Homo sapiens: one gene and its partner. The protein of the gene in region 1 interacts with the protein of each later gene in a pairwise test. Each region holds a gene or a part of one and is shown on either strand. Other genes may lie near its edges.

The links.
Region 2: the proteins of LEPROT (region 1) and MEP1B interact in a protein complementation assay, tested with the Homo sapiens proteins (one study listed by IntAct).

What each region holds. Positions count from the first base shown.
Region 1 is NC_000001.11:65,416,703-65,423,696, forward strand, and holds the start of LEPROT (leptin receptor gene-related protein), read left to right. Parts: upstream 1-3,965; 5' UTR 3,966-4,022; coding exon 4,023-4,038; intron 4,039-4,625; exon of another isoform or gene 4,626-4,714; coding exon of another isoform or gene 4,715-4,757; intron 4,758-6,994. UniProt on the Homo sapiens protein: Negatively regulates leptin receptor (LEPR) cell surface expression, and thus decreases response to leptin. Negatively regulates growth hormone (GH) receptor cell surface expression in liver.
Region 2 is NC_000018.10:32,207,012-32,214,045, forward strand, and holds part of MEP1B (meprin A subunit beta isoform 1 precursor), read left to right. Parts: intron 1-240; coding exon 241-459; intron 460-1,107; coding exon 1,108-1,260; intron 1,261-3,489; coding exon 3,490-3,705; intron 3,706-6,104; coding exon 6,105-6,548; intron 6,549-7,034. UniProt on the Homo sapiens protein: Membrane metallopeptidase that sheds many membrane-bound proteins. Exhibits a strong preference for acidic amino acids at the P1' position. Known substrates include: FGF19, VGFA, IL1B, IL18, procollagen I and III, E-cadherin, KLK7, gastrin, ADAM10, tenascin-C.

The DNA.
Region 1 (6,994 bases):
ATATCACTGTAGGTGGGTATTGGAGCTGGAATTACATGGAAACCTCATATTCTAGGGAGTGACACAAGTAGGAAAAGGCAACCCAAAGTTACTTTTACCTTGGTCCTTATTCCTTATCTCCTTGGGTTTACAGAGATCTGTCTACATAAAATGGCAAAGAGGTTTGCATTGTAGTTTCTGTAAAGGGAATAGCTATGTAAAAAGAAGTAGTGATTGAGCATTAGGAAGGAAAACCAACATTTACGGATTTCAATTAGTGTTGCATCATTCTTGCATTTAACTTATGCACTGACTTGCAAGCCTACCCCAGTGTAGATATAACATCCTGGCATTTATCTTGTGTGCACTGCCCTAGGTGTTACCATATATATATATATATGTTTTATATATATTTTTTTCTCACTTAATTCCCCCAAAGATTCTGAGACAGGTTTTTGTAAATCTTACCTCAGGAAGCTAAAGCATGGAGAAATTTACCCAGAGCTGGAGCTTGAGGCTATATATTTTTTTTTTTCTGAGGATAGGGAGAGATGATACTGTGTATGGTAAACTTATTAATATTTGTTAATTCAGCCAACATTTTGTGTATACTGTATGCAAGATGCTAATAGATATGCTGGAGAAAATTAAGACAGTGAATGGATTTGATGCCCTGTGAAGCATAAGAGGTTACTGTTATTTCTAATTACTACAAGAATTCTTGCTTCTTGGTGCATAAGATCTACTGTGGGGAATAGTACAAGTGCTGACCATCTGACTTTAGAGCTGAACAGTTTGGGACTTGATCTCAGCTTCCCTATTCACTGGTTACTGGGAGCTTGTTTTCCTATCTGTAAGATAGAGGCAATAAAACCTAGCTTATCATGCGAGACTATTGAATGCAAGGAGAGAATATTAAAATTCATCCCAGTAAGTCCACTGTAGTCCTAGGCAGCATGACAGAGGTCACAGATCTTACAAGTAACATATCAATGGCAAGTTGGGGATAAGGATTTGGTTTTTAGGGTTTTACTTTCTGTTTTTGATGACTCTTATTTTTGAGAAAATGTGGAAGGAGTAAGTAGAAGAACAGTTTTTTTCAGTGCAACATCAGGCAAAAGAAAAGCAGATTTTTTTCAGATGGTTAAAGCCTATGGCAAAATAGCTAACTTTCTCTTTAAGGTGATTGGTAACCTGGAAAGGACAGCTGGCGTGGGCAGAAAACTTGTTCAAGACAAACACTGTCCCAGCATTTTTTAAATTCCAGACATTACCCTGGGGCAAACACCTCAACTTTTTCTTTCATACCACCTTCCAATATCTTACTCCTGAGCCTAGGGTGCTCAAACCAAACTCTGCTTCTGATGTGTTGTCAGTTTTCTCTAAAATCACTTATCTTCTGTGGGACTGGAGTCAGGCTGATGTGGAAGGCTCCCGCAAACCCTATTTAGGCTCTCTGGAGACAGAATGGGTGGTTGGAAATGGAAGGGGGAATGAGGGAAATTTAACCCCATAGAATATCTTCCCCATGAGAGTAGCTTAGCACTACACGAAGAAAGCTAAAAACCACAGACTTCCAGGGCTTGTCTGATACGCAGGTTCCCTTGAGTGCTCTAATAGGTATTAGAAATAATATGATAGGGAAACAAGCTCTTGTAGGGGAGGAAGAATCTTTTTCTCTACCTATCTTAGGTTCTCCGGCTGGGTCCTTGTGCATTAGACTGGCCAAAGACAGATGAACAAAAGTAAAGCAAGTTTATCAACACGTGCGTTGTTCATATAGGTAACATGGGAATACTCAGAGATAAGCAACTCAAAGATTTGGTTAGAACTTGGGTTTATACAGCATATTAGCCAAGGAACAATAAATTTTTAAAGAAATGACAAGATAAAGGATCTTGAGTCTCTAGGGGCAGCAAATTGTCGGAAAACAAATATATGGGAGACTAGTTGCAGATGAAGGCCAAATACTAAGGTTTATCATGTAGATTTTTCTTGTGTTGTCTCCAGGCTGACAGGGGTCTAAAATTGTCTCTGGTGATTAATCTTTGTCTTTCCTGGTAGAGCAGGAAGGAGGTACACCTTCGTAAACTTATATCCTGCTTTTTGGCAAATAGAGGGAGGGCAGAGTGCTTTTCTAGTACCGTGTACCTATTTGCTTCTTCCTAATTGCCTTCAGCTCAAAATAATCCTTAAACCAAAGTGGCATACACTGCCAATGCTCTTGAGTAGATTGAAGGCTCCAAAGTAAAAAGTGCTGTACTGTAGTATTGGATCTCCAAGCATCAGCAGTGAGTCAGGTATTACAATGCTGTTTTCAGTGAGTGTGCCATCCGTCTATGAGGAGAAATGAGAGGAGCTAGAAAAATAAACTGACAGCTAGAAAAATACTCCACTGAATCAACAAATAGACATTTCTTGAAACAGTAACATGCTCAATGTGCAATTTTGAAAAAGTAAACTGAGCAAGGATCATGAAACATGATGGTGGTGAGAATTTATACTTCTCAGGTAGCCAGGGGAAGCTAGGTTTCCACAGATTCCTTTGTCTTTCAGTCCTTTTGAAAACGGAGAAAAAGCAAGAGAAGAGGGACGGCACCATCAGGTAGAGTGGATCTCAGCTAGAATGAGGGGAAGTGGCCCAGAATCCAACCTCCTCCAAAGAGCTGTGTGACAGGCAAGTCCTATCCTTTCTGCACCTCTTTCCTTAAATGTAAGTTGAAGCATTTGGACCAGACTGTTTCAATGATCTTCTAGATTGCTTTTGCCAAAACAGAACTCTCCATTCCTGTAAGATAAGTACACAATGGCTCTCAGAGATCTAAAAACTGGCCTTGGTTACCTGCAAACTTTGAGGCCCCAAGGCACAAAAATAATAGCTTTTTTTTTTTATTTTTTTTTTTAAGGTTCATGAAAGCTTCGGACACAAAAGCTTATATGGTCTTCGTCTCTATAAATAAACCAGGGAGTAAAGAAAAACCCCGCTAGTTTCAGTAAAGCGTTGCTATTAAGCAAAGCAAACCTATGCAAATATCAAGTTCTTAATGAGGAGTGTTTCCTAAGGGGCCTGTCCTCTGGTACCCCGCCTCTCCTCTGCCACAGTCATGTGAAGGCAGACAGGCACACACTCGCACACTAGCACGCACTTGGGAGCTCAGGGAACATAACACTGGTTAGTGAGTCGGTGTCCCTCTCCCATCGATTGCAACTTTTCCCCTCCTTCCCTCTCCTGCCTCTCCCCACTTTCTACATCTCCGTTCTCAGGAAGGCTCAGGGAGGATCCCCCGCTGCGTGCACTGCGTTCTGAGAGGCCGGGGAGAGACTCTGGGCCCGCGGTCGGGGCGGAGCCAAGGTCCCAACCCACATTGAACGGGCTTGAGGATTACTTGGAGGGCTCAGGATCTAGGAGGAGGGCCCAGGGCACTGGGTTGGGGTTACTCTGGGAAAGCTCTGTGGGACCAGGTGGGACCTTAGGGCTGGAGATGGACTCTGCGAGCTGGGGGCGGAGTTCTAGACTGGCAGGAGCGGAGTTCTGGGTGGCGGGGGCGGGGTCGGGACCAGCAGGGACGGCCTCTGAGAGTTGGGGGCGGAATTCTGGGCCGGTGAGGGCTGGGGCGGGACCAGCAGGGGAGGCCTCCGCGAGCTAGGGGAGGAGCTCTGCATTGTCTGGGGCGGGGCTTCGAGTAGCGGTAGCGAGGTCTGGAGCCGCAGGCGCTGCCTCCGCGAGGTAGGGGAGGAGCTCTGTACTGTCAGGGGCGGGGCTCTGAGTAGCGAGGCCGGGTCTGAACTATCAGGCGCGGCCTCTGCGAGCTGGGGGCGGGGTTCTGCACCGGCGGGGGCGGGGTTGTGAGTGGTGGGGGCGGGGTCTGGAGCAGCAGGCGCCGCGTTTGCGAGCTAAGGTCGGAGTTCTGCACCGGCGGGGGCGGGGCTCTGCGTGGCCGGGGCGGGCTCGGGATCCGCGGGGCGACTCCCGGTCTGGCTTGGGCAGGCTGCCCGGGCCGTGGCAGGAAGCCGGAAGCAGCCGCGGCCCCAGTTCGGGAGACATGGCGGGCGTTAAAGGTACATCGCGGTCCCCGGCTCGCTTGTCGTGTGGTGGGGTTGCCACCTCCGTTCCGGTCAAGCCTGGGGCTGCGCCTTCCGCGCGCCGTTGGGGAACGGCCTCACCACCCTTCCCGCCTCTCCGGTTCGGGAGGCGATCGACCGCTCCCTTCGTCCCTTGGGGTGTGGGTGGAGCGGCGTTTCGGGGGAGCCTTGGCCCTTTTTGCAAGGCCGCTGGCCTTCCTGCTCTCCAGTGGCGGCACCAGACCCCTCCCCAGCCTGAGCCCTCGGCGAGAGCGGCGCCCTCCACCTCTCCTGAGTTTTTAAACAAGGTTTCCACTTCTTGACGCCACCCTAACGCCTTTCTTCTGGTTTTCTGCCCCTCCGCAGTTTCCTATTTGCCACAAAGGACCCTTTGTCTCCAGCGTTCTTAGCATTGGGAAACTTAATCCTCTTTTTCCTAATGATTTTTCCAACTGGGCAGAGTTGACCGCGGGCGGGTGTCAATGGAAAGCACCCAGAAAGACGGTGTTTCTCGCAGTCGTGGAGAGTAGATTACGTGTAATTTTAATACTGCTTTCTTCGGTGTTTTCTCTGTTTATGGACAGAGAAGAAACCAGTGTGTGTGTAGTATGTGTTTTTTGCATGGGGCAGTTGGTAAAAACACCGCGTCCCTTATCTGTATGGCTTCAGAGCAATGCGAGACGGAAAAGGTTTTTTGCAAGGCTTCCTGTATTTTGGTAGGAAAACATTCCATTTCTAATCTGTCGAATAGAGTAGCATGACTTGTTTTTATATTGGCTTTTATATCATCCTTGAAATTTGCACCCAAAGATATCCCCAGTTAACATCTGCTATAAACATGTAGATAGTATATATACGAGTACGCCTCTGTTCACTATGAATTTATCCGAGTATGTGAGCTGTTAGCAGCAGACATTTTATCGTTATTTCTGGCTGACTTTTATACTTAATATCAGTTTAGTAAACATGGTTTACTTGGAGAGTGTCGACTGTGTTATATATCCATTTGAAGCCAATGCCGAAAACAGATGAAAAGTAGTGTCTCAGTACTACACATGATCAGAAACTACCAAATCATGATCACGTTTATGTGTGAATGTGTTAGAAAATTGTGATGTAGTGAAAAAAAAGGAAGTCTGAAATGGAAACGGACTAAGGGAAGGAAGCATTTTACAGATTGTTCAACTTTTATTGAGGAACTACTGTATGCCAGAGACTTAGGATACAAAGATAAATGAGAAGTTATTGGTGGGTGACAGAGCTGGAAATAATTATATTACTATGTCAGTGTTTATGTTGGGCTCAGATGCGGTGGGAGAACAGATGGTGGGTTGGATTTTGTCCTCCAAAAAGATGTGTTCAAGCTCTAATTCCCTGGTACCTGTGAATGTGATCTTATTTGGAAGTAGTATCTTTGCAGATATAATCAAATTAAAATGATAACTGGTTTAAGGTGGGCCCTAATCCAATGACTGGTGTCCTTATAAGAAGAGGGGAATTTAGACATAGAGACATACAGGGAGAATACCATGGGAAGACGGAGACAGAAATTGGAGTGATGCAGCTACAAAGTCAGGAGCACCAAAGATTGTTGGCAACCATGCTGGCAACCACTGAGTGTTAGGAAGAGGCAAGGAAGGGTGCTTCCCTACAGCCTTCAGAGGGAGTGTGGTGGCGCTGCTGACACCTTGATTTCAGAAGTCCAGCCTCCAGAACTGTCAGAAGATAAATTTCTGTTGTTCTCAGCCATCCAGTTTGTGGTACTTTGTAACGGCAGCCCTAGGAAGCTGATGCAGGTGGGATTGATTCCCCTGCTCCAGAGAAAGGACTGTTTTCACAGAAGAGGCGATGCTTGAACTGAATCTGAAGGGATCAATGTGGCTTCCCTTGGCAAGGCATGGAGTGAAGGTGGAGTATATCCCAAGTGGGGAGGACAGCACGTGACATGGCGCAGGGCTTATGAAACAACATGCCTTCTTCTCTTCAGGTACTTAAGCTACATTAGTAAGACCAGAACTTAGTGGTGAGGGTTGAAGCTGGCTGGACAGGCAGTTAGGAGTGAGTCAGGCGATGGTGAGCCTCCGTGCCAGAACAACTTGTAGGCTGTGGAAGCAACCGCAAAGGGATGGCAGCGGTGATATATATAGTTGAAAGATCACTGTCTGCTGTGTAGAGGATGGATTGGAAGAGTCACAGAGGCAGGAATAAGAGGTTAAGGGCCTGCACCAGGGCTGTAGCAGAGAGTTTAAGAAGTCTGGGAGATTGAGTCACCTTGACCTACTGATTCATTGGAAGGTGGAATGCAATCATGGTGTCAGTCCTCTAAGATAGGACCTTTAAAGTGTAGGGATAGTGGTTTGGTTTTACACGTGTTACACATGTTGAATTTGAGGTTCTTGTTGGCGGTCAAGGCAGAGAAGTCCAGACTGGAGGTGGAAGTACAGGCCTAGTTCTTTAGGACCTACTCTGGGCTGGAGCATCAGTTGCGGCCGGGCCCTTGTGGTAGTAGGAGCTTTGGGTTGAACATAAGTTTTCAGCAGGAGTGCGTGGAGTGAAAAGAGAGATGGGGTTGGATTTTTGGTCAACTCCAACTTTAAGAGATTCAGAGGATGTGATTCCTGAAAAAAGAGGAAAAAAAAGACCAAAAAGAATCAAACAGAAAGATGGTTGTGAACGTTGAGAAACTGGTATCAGAACAGAAGGAAGAGGTCTGCAGTACCTAGCTTTGACAGGCCTCATGGAGGAGGGGGTACTGCCGATGGTCAGGCACAGAGGAGAGGAGCAAAGCCTGCTGGGAAAAGATCATCTGAATGAAATAGTATGTGGTATTTGCTTTCCATCCACACATGGGCATTTTCCATTAAAGAGTGGAAATGTAAAAAGATATGTTAAAATTGACAGTGTTTCTTTGTCCCTTAACATGTGTATACTTTCAGATGTTTTTTAAAAAGCA
Region 2 (7,034 bases), on another chromosome or scaffold:
TAAATGCCAATGTCCTAACTATGGGCTGCAATAGAACCTTAGATATGTTCAGTGTGACTGCTGGTATCACAGTTCTAAGCTTGAATATTATATTGTAAGATGGGAATAATGAAACTGTTGTTAGTTGTAGCAAAAATTGCTTGAGTTTATTATATTCTCCATTTCTAAGTGAGCAGTATTTGGAGTAAGATAAGCTGAATTTTGTGAACATCAAGTAAAGATTTTTTATTTATCCTTTAGGCAGAGAGCACAATTTTAACACCTATAGTGACGATATATCAGATTCCCTGAATGTTCCCTATGATTACACTTCAGTAATGCACTACAGTAAAACTGCATTCCAAAATGGAACAGAGCCGACAATTGTCACAAGAATCTCAGACTTTGAGGATGTGATCGGCCAACGAATGGATTTCAGTGACTCTGATCTCCTAAAGTTGAATCAACTGTATAACTGCTGTATGTGACAGGTTCTTTGAAATGACTTATATTTTCCGCTGTTATGTAGGAAAAAATGATGGTCTGTGCCATTTTGTCAAGCATTGGTGGGGTTTCTGCGATTATAGAGATTTGATATTCAGGAAATAAACAGAATAGCACTCAGATCTCAATCTACAACTTGGAAGCAGCATTTTTCTTTTCACCACGTCTGGTGTTGAGATCTAAAAACAAATTGGGTCCTGTAGGAATATGCCTCAGGCAAGTTTTTAAAGCTGTTACTAATTCAAACCTCGGTCAGATTGATACTCACACTTCCTTTTAGCCAAAATGATATGTCTAGTTGTAATATGAATGGGATCAAATAATCTGGATTGTGGCTTAATGATTCGAATAACTAGGGGAGTATAGACTCAGGTTTCTACAAATTAGAAAATTTTTTTTAAAAAAGACTTCAGGCAGGGAGCTTATTCAGATCTACAGAATTCATTACCTTCTTTGTAGGGGTTCTGCAAATAAAGAGGGATCTTTAAGCCACCATCATCCAGAATCAGCTAGGTGTTCCCTGTAATACCAACCTGGCATTTCTAATACTGTGATAAGTTCAGTTTTTGTTACTTAGATTATCATGTTGTATGAGTGTCAATAATTGTTTTTTGCTTTTTGTAGCCTCTTCCTTGAGTTTTATGGACTCGTGCAGTTTTGAACTGGAAAATGTGTGTGGCATGATCCAAAGTTCAGGAGATAATGCTGACTGGCAACGGGTTTCACAGGTTCCCAGGGGGCCAGAGAGTGATCACTCCAACATGGGCCAGTGCCAAGGTAACAGGAGTGAGATATTCCTAGACTGTATACTCAGTGGCTACAGCCACATACTTCTCTATGAAAGAATGGGATTTTATCTCTAATTTCTATCAGAATTATTAATGATTATTCATTAGGTTACTACTGAGAAGTAGGCCTTGCACCTGATAAAGACATTGTTAATTTCTTTGCTTTTCCTTCCTGAGTTTATTTTTCTTTCTACAAGTCAGAGCTGGGCTCTGTGATGCCTCTACCAGTGCGTTCCCATAGGAGAGTGTACCAGACTGGGCCTCCTGCAAGGCCTCTTATCTCAGGGGCAGTACTATTGTTTCCTAGAAGTTTGCAGAATACAAGAGACTCTTTCCAATGGACAGCACTAGGCTGCGAATTATTGTTTCAGAACTGTAGCTGGATGTGATTATATGCTCCTGTTACAAAAATATCTAAAAAGCAGAGTTTATTTAATTTTCTTCAGATGCGTATCCTTTTCCATTTTCATTTTGTTTTGCCTTAAGTAGTTATTTGGCTACAAGGACCAAATTTTTACGTATTTGCTTATTCTGGCATCAAATATGTAAAACTAGACTTCAGAACTTAGGGCCAGTGCTTAATAGCTCAGATGATCTAGGCAGGAATTGGAGGCCTCTAATGGCAAAAAGGTGCTTTTCCTTTTATTTTTCTTTTTAAATGCATATTTGGATAGTGGATAGTGGTCCTACTCAGACCAGAGGAAAGTAGATAGGGAGGGAGGGGGAAAAGAAGAAGAATCCAGACCAGGTAGCTCTCACTTTTTTCTGTTTTTGAAAACTAATTTCTGTGGTAAGGGAAAGGTTCCCTAATGTTGTCTCTTTCATAAATCGCCTGCTCCTAGAACCATATTTAAATGCCCAACACAATTCCCTGCATATAGTGGAAACTAAGCGAATACTTGAAATAAGGTAAAGAAAATTGGGCCGGGTGCAGTGGCTCATGCCTGTAATCCCCGGCCTTTGGGAGGCCAAGGTGGGCGGATTACCTGAGGTTGGGAGTTTGAGACCAGCTGGGCCAACATGGTGAAACCCTGTCTCTACTAAAAATGCAAAAATTAGCTGGGTGTGGTGGTGCATGTCTGTAGTCCCAGCTAGTTGGGTGACTGAGGCAGGAGAATCACTTGAACCCGGGGGGCAGAGGTTGTAGTGAGCTGAGATCATACCATTGCGTATCAGCCTGGACAACAGAGTAAGACGTTGTCTCAAAAAAAAAAAAAAAATGAAAGAAAATATATATACACTCAAACCAGAATTACTAGCTGTGCCTTCTTTAGAGATGGCTTAGAAGGTTAAGTATTGCAGATAATGAAAGCAGATAAGTGGGAGGTGCCTCTGAAATTATCAGGTTCAGTTATTCTCAATTTTTTCATTACAAGTATCATTTTAAAAATATTAAAATGTGAATCTCCCCAGATGGTTGCTGTAGTTAACAATATCTTCTGAAAGTTGAATTTCTTTCTTCCTTTTCTTTTTTTCTTCCTTCTTTTTTTGTGACAGTTTGAAGCCAAAGAAGTTAGAAAGTGTTTAAAAAAAAAAGGGGGGCGGGCAGGTCAGCCAAGGCCCTGGTTTCCTGGCTGGACTCTCACCTCTGTCCGCAGTGTGTGTTCACCTTTCCAGAAAGACCTAGAAGTTCACGTTGAATTACCCTTGGGAGACACAGATGCTACAACTCTCTACCCACCCAAGTTTCAAACCCTCGTTTTGACTTAATTTCCATTTTCCTTTTTCATATTCTCAGCGGGGGAACAACCCTCTGTAGCATCTTTGTCCAATGGTAGCTCTTTCCACTTGGAGCTGGACCAGGGTTTTGGACACTTGAAAGGTGTCCCATGTAGAATCTACCTTTTAGCCCTGCTGTTTGGGCTTGACCTGCAGCCTTACAGTGGATTTTTAAAAAGTTAGCATTTGATACTTAAACTTGCTTTATCTTTATAGCTCATAACAAATGAAGATAAGCAAGGATTAGTGCCCACGGAAAACTACTATTGTAAGTAAACGTTTTATAAATAATAGAGAGGTTTGAGTTTTATACTGTTATGTCAATCTGCTAGCTTTTGCAAGTGCCAGATATGTAGCTTAGGCTTCTGTCATTTCTCCCTGGCGATTTATATATGGATGTTACTTATGCCTCGCGTAAAGAATCTAGCACCACCATTAACAAACACACATTCCTATACCCAGTATCTGTTTTTCTCTCAATTCTGCTTTTCTTTAACAGGTTCTGGTTTCTTCATGCATTTCGATAGCAGCTCTGTAAATGTGGGGGCCACAGCAGTGCTGGAAAGTAGAACGCTGTACCCTAAAAGAGGATTTCAGTGCCTGCAATTTTACTTATATAACAGTGGCAGTGAAAGTGATCAACTGAACATCTATATCAGGGAGTATTCTGCAGACAATGTGGATGGCAATTTAACCCTTGTGGAAGAAATAAAAGGTACAATGTCAACATCCTTATTGTCTGGATTTAAAATGAGGCAATCTTAGGTCTTTTCTTTAGTTAATGCAACAATTTACAATAGGGCAGGGGCTACTGAGTCACTATACTTCAACTAAGAACTAGATTCTTGTTTTAAGCTGTGGAAAGGAAGCTAGAATGAAGATTCTTTCTGAGTGCTCTGTTATGTAACACTCACTTAAGAAACTGTAGATCAGTCTCTGGCACTATGGAGGTCAGTTCTTGGCAAATAATAAAAATACAAGGCTGGGCGCAGTGGCTCACACCTGTAATCCCAGCACTTTGGGAGGCCGAGGCGGTCGGATCACCTGAGGTCACGAGTTTGAGACCAGACTGGTCAACATATAGTGAAACCTTGTCTCTACTGAAAAAATACATAAATTAGCTGGGAGTGGTGGCACACGCCTATAGTCCCAGCTACTTGGGAAGCTGAGGCAGGAGAATTGCTTGAACCCGGGAGGCGGGGGTGGCAGTTGAGCCGAGATCATGCCACTGCACTCCAGCCTGCGCGACAGAGCAAGACTCCATCTCTGAAAAAATAAATAAAATAAAATAAAATAAAAATAAAATACATAAAAATACAATGTGAACTAGCTTAGGCAAAATAGGATGGGCTCCTGGCTAAATGTTAGTTACAGCCTGTGGGACAGATGAGGGAGACACTGGCTTGAGGGGGAATTATTAATAGATCTGTCTCTGAACATTGCTGGGGACCTCTTGTTTTATCTCAGAATGGCTGTCTTTATAAGACTGGTACTTCGGTTGTTTCACTTCCCAGCTTACATTTGACCAAATTTGCTATCAGTCTGGAAAAAGGACTCTTCCTCTAATATAAAGCTTAAAAAATAAATCCCAGTGAAGAACTGGGATACTTATGTCTTAAGTTAAACACAGCTTCTGGAGCAATTCCTGAGTGGGAAATGGGTACCCACCCTTCATACCAATAATGTGTCAGAGAGGAGAGCCATGTTGACCACCTATGCAAGTAGATGGTTAAGGGGGTGACTGAGAAAGGGAGGGGCTGTGGGCTGGCAAATATATTACTGTCTATTCCACCTAATCATCTCATGACTTGAATGAATTGAGTAATTCAATTTGTTCCACAATTGGATCCATATTATGCAATATAGTATGCCATTTTCCTCCTGTTTTCAACAATGAGAAACAATCTGAAATACAGGCGATATTTTTCTTTGTGAACACCTGTAAGCAGTAAGGTTCTTAATCTCACTAAGCATATACACACATTATACATATATATTATTTATGTAACAATGTAAAATATATAAAGAATAATTATATATAATATATTATATATTACATATATAAAAGCCTTATATATAAGCCATATATGTTACTATAAATATTATATTTTATGTATTAATATCTAAATTAATACAAATATTGATATAATGTATCTGTAATATATATAATTGTCCAGGACTGGAAGGGGGGTCCTTCCTATTAGCAATCTGTGGGTTCGTCATTGATACACAATAACACAAAAAGGCACTTAAGAAGCTTGCTTATTTTCTGTCATTTGGGTATGTCTAGCTTATTTTCAAGTAACTGTGTTTCACATTAAGTGCCAACATATTTTTGTTTTAAGACTTTGTGTTAACCACTAGTTTGACATGAATTCCTCAGCTGTTGTTCATCTGGGGGCCTCTGCAGATTATTTAGTATACTGCTTCTTATTTGAGTATGTGATATAAGAAAATCAGACAGAATGGCATATTATGTGCTGCTAGCGAGGGGTATGGGCTAATAGTTGGGGAGGAAGTACAGGTTGGAAAGAAAGGAGGTGGTACCAAATATCAGATAAATACTTACAATGCTGAGTTACTGGGAAGTGATCTAAAGAGTAGATTGCAGGATGTAGGCTTTCTAGGGTTTGGTGGATTTTGTTTAATATTACCAAAAAGTTGATTGAAGACTTTGTATGTGAGGGAAGTATTCCAATCAAACTATAAATATATTAAAGAAGGCTTTGCCTGAGTATCACAGGAATCTTGAGTAGAAGTGTTACAAGTGTTGGGTTTGCTGGCCCTTTAATGGAGAATGGCAGGTAACTCATAGGTAGGGCATGAAGTACTCATGAGCTAGATGTTGTTATTTACTCACCGATCTCTAGGAAAGGGTGATCTATTTGAGAAACAGCTAGACAAACGTTCAGCTATTCCAGAGAACAGTGTGACCCCACAGAAGCACCTTGAAGTAAATAATTCTAGGCTGGAGCTTTGGCAAAACCATACTTCTGACCTGTAGAAATAAATCGGTTTTGGATGACCCTTTGTCTAAGAAGGCTAGAAATCTAATGTTGACATGTACATGATTTGAACTTCTTTGTCTTTGAAATAATAATGACTCTTTTGCAGAAATACCCACTGGGAGCTGGCAACTTTATCATGTAACATTGAAAGTGACCAAGAAGTTTAGAGTGGTGTTTGAAGGACGCAAAGGCTCTGGTGCATCACTGGGTGGTCTGTCTATTGATGACATCAATCTTTCGGAAACACGGTGCCCTCATCATATCTGGCATATAAGGAATTTCACACAGTTCATTGGCAGCCCAAATGGAACTCTGTATAGCCCTCCATTTTACTCTTCTAAAGGTTATGCCTTTCAGATTTACTTAAATCTAGCCCATGTGACTAATGCAGGGATATATTTCCACTTGATCTCTGGAGCCAATGATGATCAATTACAGTGGCCATGTCCTTGGCAACAAGCCACAATGACACTTTTGGATCAAAATCCTGACATTCGACAGCGTATGTCCAATCAGCGGAGTATAACTACAGACCCATTTATGACCACCGGTTCGTAACTCATTTTCTTTATTGCTAATAAACAATCATTGCTCTAGGAGGGACTGATAATTTTGGGAATGAGGGATTGCACAGTTAGTTACCTAGGGAATTTTGAGCCCCAAATCTTAAGAACAGATATTTAGGGGAAAGGTTTCAAGAATTGTGGACTGAGTCTGTCAGACAGGAGCTCATCACAAATGTCAGCAAGGACTCCAACAAATGCTGACTGTATTCCTAAGAACTGATGGCCCTTCTCAAATTTCCACTTCTGTGCAAGAAGTGTTGGTTTTAGAGTCTGACATGCCTGAGTTCAAGTCCAAAGTTTGCTTCTCATTAGTTATGTAATCTTGAGCAAATAATCTCTTAGGGCCCCAGTGTCCTCAGCTGTAAAGCCAGGGCTGTAGTAATCATTCCACAGATTTGCTATGAGAATTAGTACAGGTCAAGTGTGGAAGCTGTGGAAAGGCCTGCGGTGGAGAGGCCCTCAGATGTTGG